Regions from separate parts of the Homo sapiens genome. Here region 1 is linked to region 2. Evidence: fine-mapped expression QTL. A gene starts in region 2. The other region holds a variant in brackets. All regions are shown on one strand. Distances are from middle to middle.

Region 1 (17,610 bases), 96 kb before region 2:
TTCAAGAAATCAAGAATAGAAATGAAGACGTAGTAATTTTCCAGATCCCTTAAGACAAAGCAGAGTTAATCTATGAGAATGTTTTTCTGAACTCAAATAATGACCTTTATACTTTCTGATTCATGGCTTTTTTAATAAGGTTTAAAGAAAAAGCAATTTTATAATTAGGTAACTTGTTTGACATGTTTATCAGGAAATAATGGTCTGACATTCCATAACTCTGACAAAACTTGCGGCTCAAATAGTGGGAAATAATTTAATATAGCATGAAGGCCACAGCAAAATACCTCTAATCTCCAGGGAAACAATAACCTACCAGTGGTCAACAATCCTGCTGAAGCTTCAGGTCCTTGTAAAAGGGCCCCTTTTAAATGAAAGAAATGTGCATTTTAAAATTAGAGCTGAGGTTGAAAGACTCTAGTGGAAGACTCTAATCTTTCACTTTTGCATTTTTAAGACCTTGATCTCCACAAACTAGCTAGGCAATAGTGTCCTTTGACTTTCTATCTATTCCTGTCTCAGTTGATTCACTGTCCATCTTTAAATTACTATGGTAACTTTTTATTTTCGTATCAATCTCTGTACTATAGACTACTTCAAAGAAATGCAATTTTATTACTGTCAGATACTTACTGTAAACCAAATTAGGCTAACAAAGTATTGTCTAGTGTGTATGTCTTCAAACTTTATCCTGTGTACCCTAAAAGAATTTTGAAAAATCTATGTAATACCTTGCAGCATTTTAAGTTGCAGCAACACTTTTATCATAAGTTTAAACATTTGCCCGGACTGTAATTTCTGTTGAATTGTAAATATTGACATTTTAAAACAAAAGGATTACATCTCTCCATTAAATGTAACCATTGGATTAAAATACCATAGCAGTTTAACACCTAACACTATTTTTAATACATAAATTAACTCTTTTTTAAATAGAAGTGTTCACATTGTTTCTCTTTTTTTTTTTAAATCATGTTTCTGTTCTACCTCTATCACAGCATTTTATCCTGAATGGCATTTCATTTTTCACTGAGTAAAACTATATGTATAAATTGAAATTTAATTGTTTAAATTCCTTGTGACCATCCGTCTCCAAGTGTTATTTTTTCTGATTTAGTTATCTTTTTAAAAAGTTATATCCTTCATGAAAATCCATAAGTATAATGCCAAGCTTAATAATTATTAAACATTAAAAATTGAAATATTATTGAAAATGTATCTCATAATGAAATAGATGAGGAGTGATTACATTGCCTTGGCTGATGGATACTTCCCTGATGTCAATAGTTGGAATTGCTTTTTTGTTTGGTGCTTCTGAGATTTGTTTACATTGGACAAAACATCATAGAAAGTATGGGATGAGTGAAGAGGATGCTTTTTCATTGCAAAGTGAAAGGAGGGTGATTGCAACAGGAGAGGTGGGCAAGGAGAATTGGCAAGATTCTCAACCACAGGTACTTTCTCTAGTAGACAAAATGTATTCATGTGAAAGACCTGAAATTACTTCAAAGAAATATCTGGCCCCTTAAAATTATTCATCTTAGCCCAGTGTGATGACTTTGGTATTGTAGAGGTCCTTAAATTTTTGCTTTAATAAAAGGCAAATGTAACATCATTAAATATTTCTTCTCTTACTGTTTGTAGACAAAGCATGCTTCCAAAGCTGCAGAGAGTTTCAAAAACAGTTTGGTCTATGCAAACACTGGAAGCCTCTCTATTCAATTAAGGTTTGGCAAAATCTTTCTCAGAGGTAGCACAAAGGAAAATTCAATTTCATGCCTCCCAAACTACCTGAAGTTATAAGTTAATAGCACTCCAAATTGTACCGTTGCACCTTGCTCTATTAATATAACGTTAATAGAAAATGAAAGAACTCTGAATTTTTCCCAAATCCCACTTTATAATAATATCCTTTAAATTAATTATCTTGTGTCAACTTATGATACTCTAACAAAGGCCCAATTGCTCACTCCTTCAGTTATTCTAATGATTCTGAGGCCTTAGCACCCAAAATAACAAAGGTCTTGAGACATAAAAAGTGAAAGGATTCTGGCCCTCTTAGAAAGTTCTCCAGTAGCCAGAGATCCTTGCCTACAGTAACAGCCAGCCCATGTTCTTTTCTTCCCATGCCTTTCAGAAAGATGACCCTGACGACTGCCCAATAGAACTCAGCAAAGTACAGAGTGTGAAGGCTGTGGCCAAGAAACGCAGGGACCGCTCTCTCCCCCGGGCTTTCGAAATCTTCACAGACAATAAAACCTATGTCTTTAAGGCCAAGGATGAGAAGAATGCAGAAGAATGGCTCCAGTGCATCAACGTGGCAGTTGCCCAAGCCAAAGAAAGGGAAAGTAGAGAAGTAACCACATATCTGTAGGGATTTATAAGTCAGCCATGACAATTATACACCACAGGCATTGTATTATCATTGCCAATGTCAAGAAAAAGAGCTAAATTTACCAAGCCATGTTGTTTTTTACTAAATACCAATGGAATTGTTGTCCTTTAAGAAGAAGGGCCTAAAATGGCAGGATTCTTAGTAAATGTCATACTCTAACAGCTTTAGTATTGACTTCAGAATATATCTGATGCCCACAAAAATAAAATAAAATAAAAGGAGCTACAGAGTATGCCCTCAGATAGTGTGGGGCCAGGAAGGGAAAAGTCACTGATAAAAGAACTTCTGTAGATATGTCATTTAAAACTGTGAGAAAACAACATGAAAAGATGCCTGAACTCTCCATCCTGAGGAAAGATTAGCACTTCTGATGAAAATCACAGTCTGTCAAAGGTATTAAAAGAAAACTTTAAAAAAAAAAACCTTTAGAAACGTTGAACTAATGTACACTGAGAAAAACCATATAACTTACTTATAGACATATAATTACATGATCCTCTCTTACTACAACTGAGGCTAACACATGGTAAAATGGTTCCCAAATCAAGCCAGTTATGTCATTAAATACTTGTCTTTCAGAATTACTTATTTAATTATTCCATTTAAGTTCATATAATATAATCTACAGTTTAGATACTTGGACATATATCCTGCCCAAGGCACTAAGTGTAATATAGGAAAAGGATAGAAAGCCATTTTCTCTATCTTCAAAATAATGTGCCATCTCCGTTAAAATTAAGACTTTAAAGTTCTATAATTTTTTCTTTGTATTCAACTTTTTAATACCTCCAAATTACAAACATCTATTTTTTTCACTACATAGATATATAATTACACTATGATAGACAGAATTCTAGAGTGATTCTCAATAATCCATGCCTTGGTATAATCCTCTCCCCCATTGAGTGTGGGTGGGACATGTAACCTGCTTCTAACCAACAGAATATGGCAAAAGTGATGGGATCATCTCTCCCATATTATGTTATGTTATATAACAAAAGTGAAGAGAAGTTGCAGATATACATAAGGTTTCTAATCAGCTGACTTTGAGTTAATCAAAGAGATCCCCTGGGTGGGCCTGACCTAATCAGACTAGTCCTTTAAAAGAGAGTGAACCAGTCAGAGACTCTCTCTCCTATTAGCCTTAAATAAGCAAGCTGCCATGAGCTCTACGGCTGCAAGGAAATAAGTTTTGTGAACAACCATGTGATCTTGGAAGAAGCATCTGAACCTCAGATAAAAGCCCAGCCCCAGCCAACGCCTTGCTTGCAGCTTTGTGAAACTCTGAGCAGAGGACCCAGCTAAATCACGTTTGGACTCCTGACCCACAGAAACTTTCAGATAATAAATGTATGCTGTTTTAAATCTAAATTGTGGTGATTTGTTATGCAGTGTTAACTAATACAAAAGCTAAGTTGGGCTACATACAAGGGATAACTTTTTCCTTGAAATTTATTGATTATGTAGTCTAGTATAGAAACCTGGAGAAAGATTATGAATGGTCAACACCTTGACCCTCCTGCTAACTTACTAGGATAGGAAATATAAAAGGGGCCATGTTTGCGAAAGGAAACAATTCCATTTTAACAAGTAAAGTTTGAGGGTATTGTGAGTCACAGAATTTATTACACATTGGAAATAGAGTTCTGGAGGTCAAAATTCAGGATCACTGGATATATAGGTAGTCACCAAAGATGCAAAATTAGATGAAATTACCCAGAGAGAATAAGAAGACAAAAGAATTAATAAGGGTTCCTTGAGACACCAGCATTTAAGTAAAGGCAGCTGGTGTATCTGATTAGTGTTGAGAGATTATGTAGACCAGGAGAAACAATGTCACAAAAGCCAAATTAATAAGGATTTTTCAGGAAAAACAGGGCAACAATTTGAAATCCTGAAGAGTAATCACTTAAGATAAAGCCTGACTTCCACAATCAGGAAGCAATTGGTGTCATTGGGAAGAACAATTCCATTTGAGTGAGGGAGTAAACATCAAATTTTAGTAGGCTGAAGTGTCAATGGGAGGTTTGGACTTTAAAGCAATAATTGGACTATTCTTTCAACAAAATGGGGCTACGATGAAGGGGCTAAGATGGAGCAAGTGTTTTCTTGCTCTTTTTAAGATGAGTAAGAATTAAGGGAAAGATGAAGGAGTTAAAAATACAGAAAGAAAGAGGAAAAAAATGACTTTGCTTGAGTAAAGTTTCCAGAAGTGATAGGAAGGGATTAAAACTCCTTTATTCTGCAGCAATTAACTGAGCAGGTGCTAAGCAACAGTTGCCATGCTTGGCCTGGAGATACAAAGATAAAAGACACAGTTTTTCTCTTCAAGAAGTTTAAAGTTTAGTGGAAGAGACATATACGTACAACAGAAATATAAGTGCTACGCAGCAAGTGCCTTGATGAAGGTATGCACAGGGTCCTGTGGAAACACAAGAGAAGACACCATTGTAAGTGACTTTAAACTCAGAGTGGACTCCCTCACTGCTTCCCAGAGGTGATAGAAAATGAGCTAGTCTTAAAGAACTAGTAGGATTGCTGTGGACAAACAAGGAGCAAATGGTCAGTAGGGTGAACCACGCTACAAATGCAAAAGAGGGAGAAGGAACATGGTCCATTTGCAAAACGTAAGCTTTTCCCTAGGGTTGAAACATAAGGGGTGTATGGAAAATGGTTCAGAGTCATGCTGAAAAGGCCTGCAGGACCACAGGATTTAGGACTTGGTTCCATGCCAAGGGTCTAAACTTTTTCCTTAACATGATGAGGCATTAATTTGTGTGGCAGCAATAAAGATAAAAAAGAAAAAAAAATCACAAATAAGATGATGAAGCACCATTAAAAGGTTTTAAGCAGATTTGCATTTAGAAAGGTAATCTTAATAGTGGTATAGAGAATGGATTATAAGAATATCAAAAATTGTAGCAGGGAGACCATTTGGGAGGTTCTTCTAAGGTAGTGAGGACCTGGACTGATGTAGTACCAAAGGAAATAGAGATAAATGAACAGGCAGGAAAAATACTGATTTAGTTAAATGGACAGAACACTGGCGGATTGGATGGAGTTGGAGTATGGGAATGGAAAGGAAAGAGTTTCTGCTGATCCCTAGGTGCTTGCTTGGGAAACTTGGTAGATGATGATAATGATGATATTCACTGAAATAGAAAATTCAGAAGCAGCATTTTGAGAGATAAGCAGATGGTAAATTTAATTTTGATGTATACATTCAGGGAACAGATAGGGGACTAACCTTGCAGACAGACAACTCCTGTGAAGTTGGGCACGAAAAGGATGAGAATGAGTATAGTTGTAAATGATTCTCTAAATATTCTTTTAAAACTTACCGCCCCATACTTAAGAGTCAGTGAATAACTCTAGCTGTTTTAGTCAATTAGGAACAATTGGTAACAGACAAACACTGACAAAGTATTAGGTGACCTTGCATTAGCTATTAAAAATTTGAATGCCAACAGTGTGCTTAAACCTTTCACAGCAGAGAGCTCGTGGTAAAACAGTGGTTATGCTGAATGTTTGGCCTCAGAAAGAAGAGAATGGCCCCCTCAGCTCAATTTGTGGGGAAAGAATTATTTTTACTACTTGCTACAAAGTCCTTGTGATTTAATTAACTGGATGCCTCTAATCTACAACATAATTCTCAGTGCCTTTGAGCCAGATCTTAAAAAAAGTAAATGTGTGAAGTGTAAATAATGAACTTTTTGGTTTCATTCCATGATGCAATAATTCCAATGCAAGTAAATTCTCCTGGGTTCAGAATCACACTAGGAATCTCAGAATCATCAGCTTCCCGCGAATATTTCTGGCACTTCCACCCTGGTTGCTGGTGAGTTTACCACAGACCGGCCTTTCCCAAAAGGGCTGCCATTTCTTCCCGATCTAAGAAGAAACCACTTTCCTAAACATGCTTAAACCTTTAAAAATGTTGGTATGAATAAAATTATAATCATGGACCGAAATTGAAGTGGCTTTCATTTTAATTTAATTTTTATTCTTTTTCCCTCCCAGATAGCATTGGAAATATAAATGTTTATGTATGAGAAGCTTATCTAGCTACTTCTTGAGAACCTGGAGTTTGGTAAAAACAAATGTTCAATACTTTTCTAATACTGAGCTTTCTAGAAAATCCTTAGCTGGTGATGTCAAGGGGCATTTACTGGGTCATCTCCAACTCACCTACTTTCCATAGGTACCCACAGACCTGTTTGTGGTGATGACTTATTCTCAGACATAAATAAGGATTACATGTTTAAGGAAGCATTACCCACTTTAGGAAACAATTGTGAGATAAGGTGAGAGAATGTGAGCTGAATTCAAAGTGCATTGCAGACAAATAAATACCATGGTTTAAATGCCCTAATAAGGATTTCCAGTTCCCAAAATCTAAATTTTTAGAAGAGAAACCAAGAAAAAAACAAACTGTCATCTTGTTTCAGAATAGCACCAGAGTATAGATCCTTTGGAACAAATCCTTCCCAAAGATGCTCCTGAAAGACAAAGGGGTTGGAAAATCCAGAAGACGTCTACCAAGGTAGGGAAAGGGGCACAGGCTCTGGGCACGTGAAGAGTCAATCCCTCACTCTATCAAAACTAGATTACCAACCTGAGACAGTTATTCATCCTTCATCCCTGGTTTGGGGATAATATTATCCACAGAGTGGAATTGATGTGAGACACACATGTCGTGCAAAAGCACAAAACCTATAACCTTAACCAGCAGAGAACCTTTAACATAATAGGTGCTTGAAAAAGACACTCCAGTTTTTATGTACCATTAAGTAACTATGATACCATGTCTTAATGATAATTACATGTTGATGTCTTCCTTTTTAGGCAAAACATTCAGTGGTTGCTTTGCAAGACCATATGGAACTGTGGTCACTTCAATGTTGGCTCTTTCGTTCACTAATATCACACTTCATTCCACTCCTCTGCTTCTGTGCTTTTCTGTGTACATGATAACTTTTTGTTTCAAAGTCAAACCAAATTGTAACCTGTTTAAGACATAGTAAACAGCAATTAGCCCGTGTGCTGTCAACTATCCACATATCTGAATGGATGTGACAACACAAAGAGCTAAGATAG[T/C]ATTTGCACATCAATAGGCAACAACAGAAACCCCATCACAGCCATTCCCACTGCATAGTGATTGTAAAACATGTACTAATTTCAGAGATATTTAAATGTGGGGGAAGAAAATGTAAAGCAGTTAGCAGAAGGAAGTATTAAGAGTTCCACACAGGTTTGTTTCACAGTAATCAAAACTGTATGTTAACATTTTTGTGAACAGTAGAGCATATTGCAAATGTAACAAATTTTAAAACATAATGATTAAAATGCCCCCAGTGCGCCCATCCTCAAAGGTGTGAGGTCAGCTTTGCCTATAGTTGCTTACCCTCTCTTTTGACAGGACTAAGGATGGCTGATGTCCACATACAAGCCATGTTTATGGTCTCTATATCCCCCTGCCTGTGCTCTCCTTTGTCCAAGTTTCCTTTCCTGAAAGGGAAGCTGGGTAAAGAATGGGCCAAGATAGCAGAGATGGAGGCAGGGGTGCACACGGTGTGTCTTTTTATTTTTTCACTTTCATTTTAAGTTCAGGGGTACAAGTACAGGTTCATTACATAGGTAAACTTGTGTCATCGGGGATTTGTAGTATAGATTATTTCATCATCCAGGTATTAAGCCTAGTACCCACTGGTTATTTTTCCTGATCCTCTCCTTCCTTCCACCCTCAACTCCCCGAAAGGCCCCAGTGTGTGTTGTTCCCCTCTATGTGTCCATGTCTTCTTATCATTTAGCTCCCACTTATAAAAGAGAACATGCAGTATTTGGTTTTCTGTTCCTGCAAAGCACATGATCTTGTTCCTTTTTGTGGCTGCATGATATTCCATGAACCACATTTTCTTTATCCAGTCTATCATTGCCCAAATGATGGGCATTTAGATTGATTCCATGACTTTGCTATTGTGAATAGTGCTGCAATGAACATACATGTGCATGCATCTTTGTAATAGAATGATTTATATTCCTCTGGGTATATACCCAGTAATGGGATTGCTGGGTCAAATGGTATTTCTGCCTCTAAGTCTTTGAGGAGTCATTGCACTGTCTTCCACAATGGTTGAACTAATTTACATTCCCATCAACAGTGTAAAAGTGTGCCTTTTTCTCCACAACCTCACCAGCATCTGTTGTTTTTTGACTTTTTAATAATAGCCACTCTGACTGGCGTGAGATGGTATCTCATTGTGGTTTTGAATTGCATTTCTCTAATGATCAATGATACTGAGCTTTATTTCATGAGTGTTGGCCACATGTATGTCTTCTTTTGAGAAGTGTCTGTTTATGTCCTTTACCCACTTTTTTATGAGGTTGTTTGTTTTTTGCTTGTAAATTTGTTTAAGTTCCTTATAGATGCTGGATATTAGACCTTTGTTGGGTGCGTAGTTTGCAAAAATTTTCTCCCATTCAGTAGGTTGTCTGTTTACTCTGTTGTTAGTTTCTTTTCCCATGCAGAAGCTCTTTAGTATAATTAGATCCCATTTGTCAATTTTTGATTTTGTTGCAATTGCTTTTAGCATCTTCATCATGAAATCTTTGCCTGTGCCTATGTCCTAAATGATAGTGCCTAGAAAACCCCATAGTCTCATCCCAATAGATTCTTAAGCTGACAAACACCTTCAGCAAAGTATCAGGATACAAAATCAATGTGCAAAAATTACTAGCATTCAACAGTCAAGCCAAGAGCCAAATCAGGAACAAACTCCCATTCACAATTGCCACAAAAAGAATAAAATACCTAGGAATACAGCTAGCTAGGGAGATAAAAGATCTCTACAAGGAGAGCTACAAACCACTGTTCAAAGAAACCAGAAATGACACAAACAAATGGAAAAACATTCCATGCTCATGGATAGGAAAAATCAATATCATGAAAATGGCCATACTGCCCAAAGCAATTTGTAGATTCAATGCTATTCCTATTAAACTGCTGCTGACATTCTCGCAACTAAAGAAAACTATTTTAAAATTCATATGTAACCAAAAAAGATTTTAAATAGCCAAGGCAATCCTAAGCAAAAAGAACAAAGCTGGCAGCATCATGCTACCTGACTTCAAACTATACTACAGGGATACAGTAACCAAAACAGTATGATAGTTGTACAAAAACAGACACATAGACCAACAGAGCCAAATAGAGAACCCAGAAATAAGACCGCACGCCTACAACTATCTGATCTTCAACTAACCTGACAAAAACAAGCAATGGACAAAGGATTCCCTATTCAATAAATTGTGCTGGGATAACTGGCTAGCCACATGCAGAAAATTGAAACTGGACCCCTTCCTTACCCCATATACAACAATTAACCAAAGATGGATTAAAGATTTAAATATAAAACCCAAAACCATAAAAATATGATATGTCTTTTACCCACTATCACAGATTGGGGACCCTAGAGGTGAACTTAGAATGGTGTCTGAGGAGGAATTCCAGATCAAGTAGGAGGAGCATTTTCAGATGACACCTTCAAAGTCAACCATACCAAAGACAGGAGTAGAAAGGCAAGGCCTAGAGTCAAGTCGGAAGTTGGAGAAGCAGGGAAGAGCAGAGAAAGGCACAGAGCAGAGTGAGTGGAATGGGCAGAGGGTTGCACGAACTTCAGAAGAGCAAGACCACCCTTATGGCTTGATTTTTACAGGTACTTGCCTAGGCGAAGTGGCGGCGGGGGGGCGGGGGGTTCTGTTAAATGTTCTTTGATGAAACAGGTACACCTCCTCATAAATGTCCTTCTAGTCCCTGGTTATGCAAGGCCCTATAGCCACGTGCTAAGCACAACAGGCAACCAGCTCTGATGATAACCTTAGCTCCCGGGTCCCGCCATGAGAACCCCAGCCTTGGCAGAGGACATTCCACAAGAACATTCTTCTCATGCCCCTTGCCCCTGCACCCCAGTACTATTGAATTTGTCTGCTTCAAAGAAAAACTTTCTGAGAGCAGGGGGGATGGAAATCTTTGAACTTTCTATAAAATGATAATCAGATGCATTGTGTTTACATAGCTTATTTATGACTTTATGGACAAATCTTTGAAAATCTTACATCAAATTTAAAAATGCATTTTTTCTGTCTTTCAAGCAATAAAAGGATTAGAATTCATTTTGGTACTGAGAATCTAGAAGAGTTATAAAATTTTCAAATAATGTAAAAATGTAAAGTATTCAAACACATGGTAGGCTAATGCATGCCTAGGAATAACAGTGCTCCATGAGACCACACTGGAAATTAAGGGGGAGTGGGTGCTAATAAAAGTAAATTCTAATTTTTCCATTTTTGAATTATTCTAGAATTATTCTTTGCCTTGTTTTATTTTTAACTACCATTTCACTAACATTAAGTAGAATATCTATAAGACACACACACACATATATATAAACACACATTTACTATCACACAGGTATTATGACAACAGAACTATTGTTTTCACATGTGCTTTGTAGAAATCAATCCTATTACTTCATTATCTTATATTCTATTTATATCTGTCCTCTCTCTCTCTCTCTCTCTCTCTCTCTCTCTCTCTCTCTCTCTCTCTCTCTCCCTCTCCCCCTCTCCTCTCTCTCTCTCTCTGCTGGCACTTCATGTAATCAGAAGAAACTCTTATGTGTGTTCCACTATTCTTAACGGAGATCCACTTCTATACACCAGATTTCCTTTGGGAGTGTTCTGTTCCCTCTTAATTCAGAGCTATTGCTATATGAGGAAATAGTCTAAATGTCATTTCTCTTAAGAGAGAGAAACAATGATTCTGTTTGCCAAACTAGCTCATAAACACAAAAATCAGAAGGTCCATTTTTAAAATTTAGCCAAAACCACAGTTTGGCAATGCCTGTTTTGGAAAATTAACCATAATACTAAGGGTATGTGTTGATTTGAGAACATTTTCATCACGACTCCCCCAAACTCTTCATGGAGGGATATCATGTAATTTTCCACATAAACAACTCTTACCTATATATTCATGTTTTTGTTATCACTATAATACTGTCATCTCCAGAAATCCTGCAGTTGTACCATCCTCAGGTAAATACAAATCAAATTCCACTGTAGCCAATAGTGTCACAGTAAGGTTCCAATGTAACGAAGCCACTAGCAGAATGTGAGGCAGCCAAATAAACTAGGCCAAGTTCTTCTAAGCAAGGAGATTTGGCATTTATCATTCAGTTAACAGTATCACAGGCTATTGGAGTTGGAAGAATCTTAACACTTGCCAGGCCAAACCTCTCCACCCCATGGAGAAGTCCCTTTCTTGTCATCATTGGCAGGTGGCATTCCCAACCGCGCAAACCCTTCTAGGGATAGAGAACTCATTAATTTATCATCAGTTCACATCTTTTTAAAATAAATTTTTTCTGTTTATGAAAACGTTTATTGCAGAAAATACCAAAAACTACTAAAATTATAAAAATTATTCATAATCGTCTGATCATTCAGAACCCAACAATATAGAAATGTTCAAATATAATTCCCATTAGGTTATTCATACCATATAATTATTTTCTGAAAAATTCTGCCGTTCCATCATTTCTAACCTTTAGTCCAGGTTCTCCCTCCTGCAGCCAGACATAATGTCTGCTCCCTCTTCCCCAAGACAACCTTTTACATAGTTTGATTCAAACATTCATTCAACAAATACTTATTAGCCAGGCATGGTGGCACATGCCTGTAGTCCTAGCTACTCAGGAGGCTGAGGTAGGAAGATCACTTCAGCCCAGTAGTTCAAGGATATAGTGCAGTATGATTGTGCCTGTGAATAACCACTGCACTCCAGCCTGGGCAACATAGCAAGAGAAAGAAGGAAGGAAAGAAGGAAGGAAGGAAGGGAGGGAGGGAGGGAGGGAGGGACGGAGGGAAGGGAAGAAAGGAGAAAAAGAGAGAGAAAGAAAGAGAGAAGGAAAGAAAGAAAGGAAAGGAAAGAAAGAGAAAGAAAAGAAAGAAGGAAAGAAGAAAGGAAAGAAAGAAAGAAAGAAGAGAAAGAAAGAGAAAGAAAGAAAGAAGAAAGAAAGAGAGAGAAGGAAGGAAGGAAGGAAAGGAGAGACCATTTACTGAGCATCCAACATATACTAGGGCATGGGGACTCAAAAATGATAAATAAATTGTCCATGCCTTTAACAAACTCAGTAAATAAATGTTATGATCTGAATGTTTGTGACCCCCCTTCCCAAATTTATATGTTAAAACCATTAGGTAGTAGTATATGTCAATACCAATGTGGTGGTATTAAGAAGTGGGGCCTCTAGGAGGTGATTAGATAATGAGGGTTCTGCCCTCATGAATGGGATTAGTGCCCTTATAAAAGAGGCCAAAAGGAGCTTGTTTGTCCTTCCCAACGTGAAGACACAGCTAGAAGGCGCCAGCTCTGAGGAACAAGCCCTCACCAGACAGCAAATCTACCAGCACCCTGATGTTGGACTTCTCGGCCTCCAGAACTGTGAGAAATAAATTTCTGTTGTTTATAAGTTACCCAATCTAAGACAGTTTGTTATTGCAGCCCAAATGGACCAACACAATAAGTATATTTTATTTAATAAGTAAATCCATACATAAAACATCTCCTATGTGCAGGACCTGTGCTGGGCATTAGAAATGCTGAGGTGACCAAGATGTCTCAAACTTTGTGGGATACGTATCCTAGTAGAAGAGAAAAATGTTAAAGTATTATCTTAATTATGAAATTGCCATGCGACCTATCCTACAAAGAAGCACAACTGATATGAGATTGTGAAAGGAGAGGTCTGATCTAATTAGGAAGTTAGGGACAGCTTCCTGGACAAAGAGACATATGCCTGAGATCTGAAAGATGAACAGGAAATTACTAGTCAAAGGGAGAGGTAGAAGAAAAGCAGACCAGGAAGAACTGAATGTGAGAAGACCTTGGAGAGAAAAGGCATGTAGCACATTAGAGGAACCAAAACAGGCTAGTGTGGTGGATGAGAGTGGTGAGGCTGGGAGGTGGGCAAGTCATGAAGGCTGTGGGAGAGCTACTGTTGGGTTTAAAACAGGGATGGTATGATTAGATCTGCAATTCCGTAAGATGGTTCTACCTGCTGTGTAGAGAATGGTTTGCTGAGAAAGCAATAATAGAAACTGAGAGAAAAATAGAAGGCTATTACAATAGTCCAGGTGAGAGGTATAACGAAAGCTTGAAAGAAAGTAGCAGCACTGGAAATGGAGAGAAATAGAGGGTTAGAGAGAGACTTTAGAAATGCAAATTGCAGGACTTGGTGATTGACGGGAATTGTCTCCAGAATCCCGGCACCCGTGGGTTGGCGGTAGCTCCATTCATGATAAAAGGAGCATTCAAAAGGGATCAGGTTTGAGGGACATCTTGCCCATGAAAGAAACAGATGTGTGGAGATCACAACACTGTGATGTGGGGGCATGATGGAGACAGAGGAGGGGGCTGCTGGCTCTGCCTGGGGAGTCAACTAAACCTCCACTGAAGAGTTGATGATATGCTGGATGTTGAAGGAAGAATATAATTTTCTTATATTTTAGACCTCGCCTTTCACACTCTCACAGTCAAAAAAGAGAAATGACATATGCCAAGACTCAGGATCACACTTAAGATGAGACAACATAAATGGGCAAGGATGAGAACAAGAGTCACTTAACTTTAATTACTTATTTTATTGGTGTTTTTGTTCCAAATTCTTGTAGAAATATATACTAGATTTTTTAAAGTAAGTATGGTGGGCACTGATGCATCACCAACATCCCTCACTGAAGGACCTGGTGCCCCAGCTGCTGGGACTGCTGTTGGCAGACAGCCTTCAGCTGCCATTCCCCTCAAGGACTGCCTCCTGGCCAAGGTCATGCCTGGGGCACCTGACATCTAGTGAACAGTTAATGGGAGAGTGTAAAGACCTGGACATTCAGGCCCAAGTTGAGACAACTCTGAGGGACCATTCTACCTGCAGAGCTCTCCACATGGTCAGTTGAGACTATCACTGGGGCGACACTGAAGCTCAGTTTCTCCACCTGCCCCTTACTGATTCCTCTCCACTCCCTTCTGCAGGTGTTGGTCCCCAAGGTGCTCCTTAATAGGCATCCTGCGCCTTAAACACTGCCTCAGAGTCTGCTTCCCAGGAAGTCCAAACAGATTGAGAGTAAGTAAAGACATAAAGGCAAAAGGAAAACAAAGTGGGAAGAAGAATAGTCACTGGGATAAGGTAAGTAGATGAAACTCGATCCCAGCAAAAGACAGCGTTCAGAGTTGACACCATGCTTTCATGCAGCCAGTTAAGGGAGGCATTCAATCAGATTCATGAGTCAGAGTTTCCCCAGGCTAAAAATAAACCAGTTGCCCAGAGGAAGAAAAGCTCTCTCAACAATGAGACCCAAGAATTTTTTTCCTATCGGCCTTACAAAGAGAACACTGTAATATAGTAACAACAGCTTCAATATCTCTCCATAAGTGCAACAGCATGTTTCAGAAGGATATGTAAGGGTGCAAACCCTAGTTACAAATTCAAACATACAAATAATATAATTTTCTTTATTTCCTTATGTTTTAATTAATTTATTGCTTGAGTGCTGGATCCCATTTCACTTGAGAGCAAAAAAAGCAGTGTTCATTGATTCAGGATAAACTCAGTCAAACTCAGAATATTCTCCATTTATTCAGGTTTTTTCTAGTTTCTCTTCTCAACAAGTATTCTTCCAAATGTATTATTTATGCCACAAGATTCATAATCTAGTTCTTCAGAGTTATGAATTTTTTTATTTTTTTATTTTATTTCGTTTTATTTTTAGAGAGACGGGGTCTTACTCTGTTGCCCAGGCTGGAGTGAAGTGGCACAATTCTAACTAACTGCAGCCTCAAACTTCTGGCCTCAAGCAACCCTCCCACCTTGGCCTCCCAAAGTGCTGGGATTACAAATGTAAGCCACCATGCCCAGCCAGAGTTATGAATTTTTTAACCTCGAAATTTTGACTTCCATTAGCCAGACACAATGGCACTTGCCTATAGTTCCAGCTACTCAGGAGGCTGAGGCGGGAAGATCACTTTAGCCCAGGAATTTGAGGTTGCAGTAAGCAATGACTGTACCACTGCACCATAGCCTGGGTGACAGAACAGAACCCTGTCTCTAAAAATAAAAGTCAAAAAATTTTAATCCTGACCTTTGAGACTTAATCTTACTTTTCTCAAAGTATTAACAGGTAAGTTTCAGAATAGATTTTTGAAACTTACAGTTTACTGTTACTTCTGATTTCTTTTCAACATCCTTTTTCTGAGGCAATGGATGCCTTCTGCCTAATTTGAAGGGGTAGAAAGGCCAGGGGATGGGCCAAAGGGCACTGCAGAAGACTAAACTAATAACAAGGAACTAAAAAAAAAAACATGGGTTAACAGACTGATTGTTATAAACAAACTGATTGTTACAATGTTTCAAAATAACATTCCTCAGGAAAACCACTAGTACAATGCTAGTACATAGAAAAAAATAAAAGTGACTGGGGTGGGTGCTCAGAACCATGTGGCCCAAACAGACAGCGTGCAGTAAGTCACAATGGAGTCAGGAATATATTTTAATGTGGAGGAATGGACAGACTGTTCAACTTTCAAACAAGGCTTATCCAAGTGGAATCAGGATTCTCTATTATTTATTTATATATTTCCAAATGCAGGATATCAGTTTCAGAAAAACAGGAAGTTAGGGAGGTAGTGAAGGTTTTGCCTCTGTTGTTTAACCAAAAGCTGCTGTGAAAAATGTGATGTCCCCCAAAATGAAAAAGTCATTATGAAAATTATGTCTATTTTGTTCTCTGCCACCATTAACTAAGCTGAAGTCCAGCCAGTTTGTTTTAAATTTCAAACCACTAGAAAGGACAGGCTCGGGGGAAATACGTGGAAGTTCAGAGGTTTCTGGGTTCTAGTGACAGGAGCAGAGCAAAGTAAGGCCACTTCAGATACAAAGTTTAAGAGGGCAAAGAGCCTCCTGAAGATGAAACTAAATAGCATGGCCAGTCGCCATGGCTCATGCCTATAATCCCAGAACTTTGGGAGGCCAAGGCGGGTGGATCACCTGAGGTCAGGAGTTTGAGACCACCCTGGCCAACATGGCAAAACCCCTTCTCTACTAAAATACAAAAATTAGCCGGGTGTGGTCGTGGGCACCTGTAATCCCAGCTACTCGGGAGGCTGAGGCAGAAGAATTGCTTGAACCCAGGAGGTAGAGGTTGCAGTGAGCCGAGATCATGCCACTTGATCACTCCAGCCTGGGCAACAGAGTGAGACTTTGTCTCAAAAATAATAAATAAATAAAATAGCAGATGCACACAGAGCTCTGTCGGCAGAGAAAGCTGAAAATATCCAGAGGCTAAATTGATGATCTGGAACACTGTGGAGGCACAACACAATAATCTCAGACCTACAACCTTGAGAGGGGTATTGAGAGATGCTTTCTGTAATTGAGAATGGATGCCTTGGGAGCATCATTTCATTTAAACAGTGAGTTTTAGTAGGCATTGCACGTAACGAAAATGAAGAGACCTTTATAGCAGAATTTGTGTGTGTGTGTGTGTGTGTGTGTGTGTGTGTGTGTGTGTTATTAAGGAGAATTACATCATTACTGTGAAGTTATTCACTGACTTTATATCTACATGCCAAAGTTTCAATACTAATAGTTTATCTATATGACTGCTTAAATTCACAAGCAAGTATTTGAAAGAATATGATTATAGACAGGCTGCTGTTTATTACAAAATTCTTCAGAATAGAAAGAGCTATAGAAAATAACATAATAAACCCCTTACAACCACCCCTCAGCCTATGAAATAAAGCAGTACATGTGCATCTGAAGCCCTCTATGTATCTCCTCCACAAATGTAATTCCTTCCCTATCTCACACAGGTAACTACCATCCTGAATTTGTTAATTATTATTCTAATATATTTCTATACACACTTACCACCCATTTTTATGCTTTAAAAATACATAGTATGTTTTGCATATATTTAAACTTCACGTAGTGTCATACAGCATGAATCGTTCTGTTTTCACATCTCATGTTTGCATCTAGGTCTAACTGATTTTCAGTGCTGTATATAATTCCTTTGTATCATTCCATTGTTTTTAGGTATTCGGATTCAGGTTCAAATATCATTCAATTTTTTATCCACTTTCTAGGGGATGATTA
Region 2 (8,165 bases):
ACTGCCAGCTCTGGGTTGACTGTGGAGGTAGATGTCCCCAAATCTCAGGACCTCACCAAGATAATGGCAGACATCCGGGCCCAATATGATGAGCTGGCATGAAGAACCAATAGGTGCTGGACAAGTACTGGTCTTAACAGATTGAGGAGAGCAACACAGGGGTCACCACGCAGTCCGTCGAGGTTGGAGCTGCTATAACGCTCACGGAGCTGAGACATACAGTCCAGTCCTTGGAGATCAACCTGGACTCCATGAGAAATCTGAAGGCCAGCTTGGAGAACAGCCTGAGGGAGGTGGAGGCCTGCCACGCCCTGCAGATGGAGCAGCTCAACGGGATCCTGCTGCACCTGGAGTCAGAGCTGGCACAGGCCTGGGCAGAGGGACAGTGCCAGGCCCAGGAGTACGAGGCCCTGCTGAACATCAGGGTCAAGCTAGAGGCTGAGATCGCCACCTACCGCCGCCTGCTGGAAGATGGCAAGGACTTCAATCTTGGTGATGCCCTGGACAGCAGCAACTCCATGCAAACCATCCAAAAGACCACTATCTGCTGGATAGTGGATGGCAAAGTGGTATCTGAGACCAACGACACCCAAGTTCTGAGACATTAAGCCATCAGAAGCAGGGTACCCTTTGGGGAGCAGGAGGCCAATAAAAAGTTCAGAAGTCAAAAAAAAAGTTAAATTATATTACTCTCAAGTCATTACAAATATAGGTGATGATTTCATTGAAGTCCAGTGTTTTAATGAAGTACATAATCAATGAGGGTTTTTACTTTTTATTTGGAAATAAGACATGGAAGTTGCAAAGATAGACTACTCCTATGTATTCCTCCAACTTTCCCCAATGATAATATCTCACACAACCATAGATTATCAAAACCAGAAAACTGACCAGGCACAGTGGTGTGCCACTTATAGTCCCAGCTACTCAGGTGGCTGAGGTGGGAAGATCCCTTGAGTTCAGGAGTTCAAGGCCAGCCTGGGCAACACAGTGAGACCCTGGCTCTATAAACAAAAATGGAAGAAAACCAGAAAACTGGTGTCATCAATTGTGTTTAAGGAAACCGAGGCTCCTTTAAAAGTTTGTTATAAAATTATAGATATCTCATAAATATTGAGGTGGAAAGATTCCCTGGAAGCAGCCTAGTCAGAAAGTGAAGACAGTGACATCCAGATAGGTTAATACTTCTGCCAGCACCATAATTACACTCTCTTGGCTGTACATTCCAATCACTCGAAGACAGGCAAAACTGAACCACTGGCTGGGCCCACCTTAAATCAGTGACATCAACCTCTGCAGGCAAGGCTCAAGTATCAGTACATTTTAAAACAACTTTGCCCACTGAAGGTTCACTTAATCAACTGATAAGGCCGGGTGCGGTGGCTCATGCCTGTAATTCCAGCGCTTTGGATGCCTGTAATCCCAGCATTTTGGGAGGCCGAGGCGGGCGGATCACCTGAGGTCAGGAGTTCAAGACCAGCCTAGCCAACATGGCAAAACCCCGTCTCTACAAAAATACAAAAATTAGCTGGACGTGGTGGTGTGTGCCTGTAATCCCAGCTACTGGGGAGGCTGAGGTGGGAGAATCGCTTGAACCCCGGAGGCGGAGGCTGCAGTGAGCCGAGATCGCGCCACTGCACTTCAGCTTGGGCGACAGAGTGAGACTCTATCTAAAAAAAAAGAAAAAAAAAATCAACTGATAACAGGCGATTAACAGGAGAAAAGGGATACATAACACCGGGGTAAAAGCAGGAGGATGATTACCCAGTAGCTTAATGGAGTACAGAAGATTTTATATCTTTTTTTCATAGGGGAAAGGGTAGATGAGAAATGTAGACATTTATTTTGAGGAGCAGCAAATGATTATTAGGAACAATGAATGGACAGAAATTAGTAAATAATTTTCTTTTGAGTAATCTTGTGAAAAAGTCCCTCCAGGAATGGCTGCATTTCTGAGTCTTTTTGAAATAGGATACGAGATTTCAGCGAGGGGAGGAATGCGATTGATTCTTCTACAAAGAGGCTTCTCTAGTCAGGAAAGGAAATTTCAGAGAGTACCTCCCTGCACTTGGGAAAAGTGGGAGCAACAAGTCAAGGTTGGGGGACCTGCATTATGAGGCAGCTTCTAAAGCCTCTGTCTTTGGGGTATCGCTTTCTGAGCGTCAAGAGTAAAACGTGATGCATTCCTTTCCTTCCAACCTAGATTCTAGTAGTTTAGATCAGTATCATTGTTTTTACTTCAAGGTTCAGGAAACGCTGGAAATTGCTAGCTAATATCACAGGAAAAAAAACAAAAAACACGAGGTTGACCTCACCCTACCCGCGGTAGGTAACCATGTATGAATAGAGACTCCCAGGCATAATCAAATTACCTCTGTCAAGTCCTCGCCCTAAGACTATTTTTGGAAACTAGGGATTTTCCAGATTACTGAAAGCCGTGGCGGTGTCAAAGGCCGGGCAGGAGTTTCGCAAGCGGAGCTATGAAAGCAGCCACTCTCGCGGTCATTCCTATGCCTCCGCCCTACTTCCCCATACTGGCAAAAACACGCTCCCCGGGGAGCTTTCATTTGGGAACCGATAGGGTCCACAGCCCTGTGTTCTTCAAATACTGTAAAGCAGCCCTCTCCAGATTCCTTGAGGGTCACTTTATATTACACATTCGTCCACACAGGACAACAAAGTCACCACTTCCACCCGCCAAAGCGCGCTCAGGTCGGCCGCCACTTCCCTTGGTACACGCGGAACGCAAGCCGCGCCGAGGCTAAAGGAAGAGGCCGGAATGCAGGGCGAAGGGGCGCAGAGATGCTAGCCAATGCTGCCACCTCTATTTTGGGTATAAGGGATCTTGTAAAGCTCCGTTATTCGTGTGGCTATCACAAACAAGGTGGTTTCGACCGGCCTTGGCTAGAGAAGGCCTCCTCAGCCTCTGAGGATCCCAAGGTCTGTCGCAGCACCCAACACTCCCCTCGCAGGCCCAGATGCCGAGGGCGGAGGCGCGGCCTGGAGGGACTAGTTGGCGCGCGGCTGCCCGGCGTGGTGACGTCAGGGCGGAAGCGCACGCGGCGTGAAGCGGCCCAGAACCCGGCGGTCACGGGAATATCCGTCGCGCCGAGAACGCTGGTTAGTCTTGTTTCGGGTTCCGGCTGCGTTGGGCTTGCGTGCGGCTCGCTAAGACTATGGCGTCCGGGCCTCATTCGACAGCTACTGCTGCCGCAGCCGCCTCATCGGCCGCCCCAAGCGCGGGCGGCTCCAGCTCCGGGACGACGACCACGACGACGACCACGACGGGAGGGATCCTGATCGGCGATCGCCTGTACTCGGAAGTTTCACTTACCATCGACCACTCTCTGATTCCGGAGGAGAGGCTCTCGCCCACCCCATCCATGCAGGATGGGCTCGACCTGCCCAGTGAGACGGACTTACGCATCCTGGGCTGCGAGCTCATCCAGGCCGCCGGCATTCTCCTCCGGCTGCCGCAGGTCAGTGCTCCGGCCCCGGGCCGGCCGGGCGCTCCTCTCCTCTCCTCCGTCCCCTACGCCGCATCTCAGTATCACCGTGCCCCGGGAGGGTGGGGACGGTTCCTTCAGGCTTTCCCGTTCGGGGCCCAGCCGCGGCCGGGGCGTGCCGGGGCGGGGGGCTGCGGAGGCGGAGGGAGGACTTGGCAGCGGGCTGTTCGCAGCGGCGGCGGCGGCGGGAGGGGAAAGGGAAGCGATCGGCGGCACAAAATGGCGGCGGCGCCTGGAGCGGGCCCGCCTGACCCCTGCGCTTCCGTTCTCCTCTCTTGTCTGCAGGTGGCGATGGCAACGGGGCAGGTGTTGTTTCATCGTTTTTTCTACTCCAAATCTTTCGTCAAACACAGTTTCGAGGTAAGCACAGCGGAGGCGGGTAAAAGGGATTTCTTCATCCGGAAATGGGCAGAGTAGGGGTAGTGTCAGCAGCCAGCTTTTCCAGAAAGGGAGTGGTTTAGTTTAGGCCTTTGTACCTACTTCTCACTCGCCAGGAAGTGGAAACCTTTAGAATGTGGTTCAAAATCGATCACGAGCCTAAGTGCCCTCTTAACGAAAAGTACAGTTTTCAACCAAATGCAGAACTCCTGTAAGATTGAGTTTGACTCTGGAACCAAAATTAAGATGAGTTAAACAACAAAAAGTATAGTACTAGCATAGCTGGTAGACTTACGGCATAGAGATGTCTTCTCTAATTTTACTAAAGGTTGTCCCAATTGTGTTCTAAATTTTATTCTTCAAAGTGAGTTTAATCTAACAATGGCTTTTGTGGCTCATGGGTTCTTTCAGATTGTTGCTATGGCTTGTATTAATCTTGCATCAAAAATCGAAGAAGCACCTAGAAGAATAAGAGATGTGATTAATGTATTCCACCACCTCCGCCAGTTAAGAGGAAAAAGGTAAGATTGGCATTATTGAACATAGTATCTCTTGCTACTGCTGTACCGTGCACCAGTCATCAAATCAAAACATCTTTCCTTTCAAGTGAATACGGATGCAAAAGAAAACGGACTTTAATTTAGGTGTTAAAGTTCATATAGGAACACTGATACTTAAAATAATTTGAAAAAAGAAACATAATTAACCGGTTATCTAAAGTTTGTAGAGGCAGTTGCATTTATGGACAATCCTAACAGTGCTGTGAAGCCAGGCCTGTGGCTTAAGATTAAACAAGAAAGGGAGTACATTTGGCTCAAGTGTGAGTGTATTCTGTAAGTTATTTTTCCTCTCCCCTCTCTGGAAGACTGAAGGCTGGAAGTTTAAACACTGTAGTTTAAGTTAATATTGTGGCAAAGTTCTGTGTAGATTATGTTTTTCTACTCGAAGTCCCAGTTAATTCTTTATCAATTGAGGTTGGCTTTTGTTAGAGTACTTCTCAACATTGAACTACGATAAATCGAATAATACCGGATCTGAAAGGACTGCAGGATGATAAAGTTTGAAGTTTGAAGTCAAAGGGATTAAACAGGTATTTTGTTTTGGTTAGATACAGTCTCAGTGAGTGGGTTAGAAAATTAACAAGTAAGATTGATTGGGTTGCATTTAGATAGGGCCATTTATTTGATGTTGTAAGAAAATACAGAGACTGAAATAGTATCTCCTAGGTGTTGTGGTAACATAATTTTATGTGGACCTATGTGTTCCTGTGAGGCAGTACCAAAAAGTTTGTTGCAGGACTTCCTGCATCTACAGGTGACTTCCAGTACATGCTGCAGAATGATATATTTGGTGTAGAATAGTTTTTGCATTCACTCTTTAAGGAATTGTAGTGATGTTAGACAAATTGTACTGAGTTTGAAAGGAAGTTATTAAAAGGATTATAAGTTGTTCTGGGGGTTGGGTATGTTGGTTAGTGCTGTTAGTATTCTATATGAGTAGTCCTTATTGGCTGAATCTGTAAGTTGGCAGTAATGGAACTATTCAGACAAGCAAATATTAAAGCAACTTTAAGATGACTAGTCTATTCTGTGAGTCTACAGACAGTTCTTTTTTAAAAAAAGAGTATCCTAGTCAAAAAGTCTGCAACAGTTTTCCTACATACTTTTTCTCCCCCATCTTTTCTCATTCACCTTAACTGTGTCCAGGGATAGAGTACTTTTTAAATTCTAAAATATCTTTTAGTTTGTTGATGAGTCCCTGGGAATTGGGAAGATTTCAAATTGGTCTTTGGTATGGTCTGAGGTTAAATCTGTATTTAGATACCTGGCTGATTCTTCAGGATGTTTAAAGTAATGACACTAATACAAGGCTCTATCTTTAGTCAAAGGTTTCTCTTTGCTTAAAGGAAATGGTTTTCTAGTATTCTTTGAACCATTGAGCCAACTATTATGTAATCACATGATTATCTTCTGTGGAATTTTCCTGTGAGACTAGTTTACTTCGTTGATGTTAGAATAGGTCTTAACTGTAAAAACCATGGAATTTAAAATAATATAATCTCACCTGATTGTTGTGTCTGATGTAACTTTGTTTTTTGGGTCATTATTACAGAGAAACTGATTTTGTTTCAATCTTAGAAGTCTGATTATAGCAAAATTTAAAAGGAGTTGTTAATTGCATGGAAGCCTTTTTTTAAAGCAGGATGTAAAAGTGTTTCTATGCATATTACAAGTTTACTCAAGCACGTAACTTGTATATGTTATTAACTTCAACTCTTTTTTCCCTTGCAACCGACTATACAGCGACCAGCTACATTTACCAAAGCCTGGGTGATGTGGAGTGGTACATAGAGATGAAGCTGTCGTCATGGCAACAGTGAGTGAAGTATCGAAAATCCCCAAGGAGAAGCCAGTGCTCTGAGAATAGGTCACTGGAATCGGGGACTAACAGGTTGGCCACTGGTGAACCATTTAGAAAAACTCCTGTTTCTTGTTATAAGCTTTTGTCTTTGCTGTCCAAGTTATTAGAACTATAGCTTTGTATTTATTTTTGCATAGGTTAATGTCATTAGAAAGTACTATCAGTATTATACATTGGTTAGGTAAAGCATATCACTTGTCTTAATGATGCTATTTGTTTTAATCTAGTTTATTCATAACTTTAAATTGTAGTGTGACTTTGACAATTACAGTGGAGATACATTATTCATGTTGCTTGTAGGTCATTGGTCTCTTCAGCCTGGCTACACATTGAGAATTAGCAGAGGAGCTTTTTAAAAAGTACCAGTGCTTAGTCCCCAACCTGGATTGTTTGGCCTATTCCTCCTTCAGTTTTTTGTGGTTCGATAATTATCTTTTAAGTTGACAATAAACAGCTAAATTTAGAGGGGGGATTGCTTTTTCATTGTTCTAGTTTCCAAATATTTACTTTTGAGATGCAGCGTATTAAAATTTTCAAAGACTGGTTTAACCATTCTCATTAGTAAATACAATGTATTTTCAGTGTATCCATAGATAATAAAAGTTGGATAGGTAAGAATTGGAAGGGTGTTAAGTGATGTCATTTAGTCTACCACCTTTCTACAGTATAATTCTGTGGCTCTACAAGGTGGCCTTCAGTTTGTTTAAATACCTATAAAGGATGTTTCTACTTTTAAGTAGGCATTACAAATTTTTGTATATTGCTTGGCAGTATGCCTCTTTGTAAACTACCAATCTGTTATAGTCTCTTGAAGACTTGGTTCCAATATTTCTCAGTCTTTGTAACACATAAATGAAACTAACCATGTTTGGACTTTGTAATTTTTGTTGTTGTTGAGTTATATGTCAATTACATAATCATGCTAAAGGAAAATAGCTCCTCTAACAAACCATAATAATAAACTTCTAATGACCAAAGACCAGGATTTTCTAAAGCTGAAAATAATTCTCGTATAAATCAGAAAAATTGGACAATAGAAACTTAAAGCAGAGATTGAGTTAGTTTGTGTGTTGATAATGAAAATTATTTTTGAGTTTTCTCTGAATAGATGAAGACTTCTTTTTTAAAGAGATTTTCAAATGCCACCTCCTCAAACTTTATTGGCAAAGAAAGTTTACCTGATTGGGGAGGAAGAAATTCTAGCAGGCCTTAATTTAATGTGCTTGTTGCAACAGAAGGTACTAATGTATACTTTGAGACTTTGTTTACTGCTGATTGATGGAGATATATTTTTTAAATTTATGATACAAAGTAATCTCTACCAGGTAGTTGTAAATTACGTGTGCACCGTTGATTTGTGAGGTAGAACCAATTCTGAACAAAATAAAGGTATCTGGTTTTAGGTTATATACCCACAAAGTTAACTTTGAAAATTGCAGGTAATAAATAGCAGGATTAAGCAAGAAGTTAAGTATATATTGAATTATAGTAAATAATGGGTTTGGTTTTCTTAAATCTATTTTGATGTCATTGGCATTTTGACACAAAAACAAAGAAAATGGCATCATTAAGTCTGATTTGGGACTAAATAGTAGCTATAATTCAAACATATTTAGCTTCTTTAGTGTAATTGCAAGAACAAATGAATTATATCACCATTTGAAGGCAGTTCTTAAAGCAGGTTATCTTAAGAGGTATAGATAATTTTTATTAACAAATGGAGAAAAATGAGACAACTATGTTTTCATAAAATTACATTTTACTAGGGATTTTGATGATACCGTCTTCTGTCTGGATTGCAAGGGGTTAAGAGTTAAAATGGTGTGTGCAGCTGTAACACTGGAGCTATTTTATCTCTTA

Evidence for each region. PIP is the estimated chance that this variant, and not a neighbour inherited with it, causes the effect.
Region 1: its variant is fine-mapped to the expression of CCNL1 in whole blood (INTERVAL, PIP 0.94).

Annotation. Positions count from the first base shown.
Region 1 is chr3:157,245,898-157,263,507 of GRCh38, reverse strand. All of the region lies in intron 3 of LOC101928236 (a long non-coding RNA gene), which reads right to left. It overlaps VEPH1 (ventricular zone expressed PH domain containing 1), which reads left to right. Exons shown (of 14, transcript NM_001167912.2): 14 at 2,138-3,766. The coding sequence ends at 2,374. It overlaps LOC105374179 (a long non-coding RNA gene), which reads left to right and starts at 12,458. Exons shown (of 3, transcript XR_007096142.1): 1 at 12,458-12,899; 2 at 14,487-14,577. RefSeq lists enhancers at 7,240-7,771, 10,410-16,342. The variant T/C (reference allele first, on the strand shown) is at 7,493.
Region 2 is chr3:157,155,106-157,163,270 of GRCh38, reverse strand. It overlaps CCNL1 (cyclin L1), which reads left to right and starts at 3,124. Exons shown (of 11, transcript NM_020307.4): 1 at 3,124-3,479; 2 at 3,792-3,866; 3 at 4,296-4,405. The coding sequence starts at 3,177. It also overlaps the pseudogene KRT18P34. RefSeq lists enhancers at 2,263-2,322, 2,343-2,392, 2,480-3,209, 3,843-3,912 and a silencer at 3,493-3,702.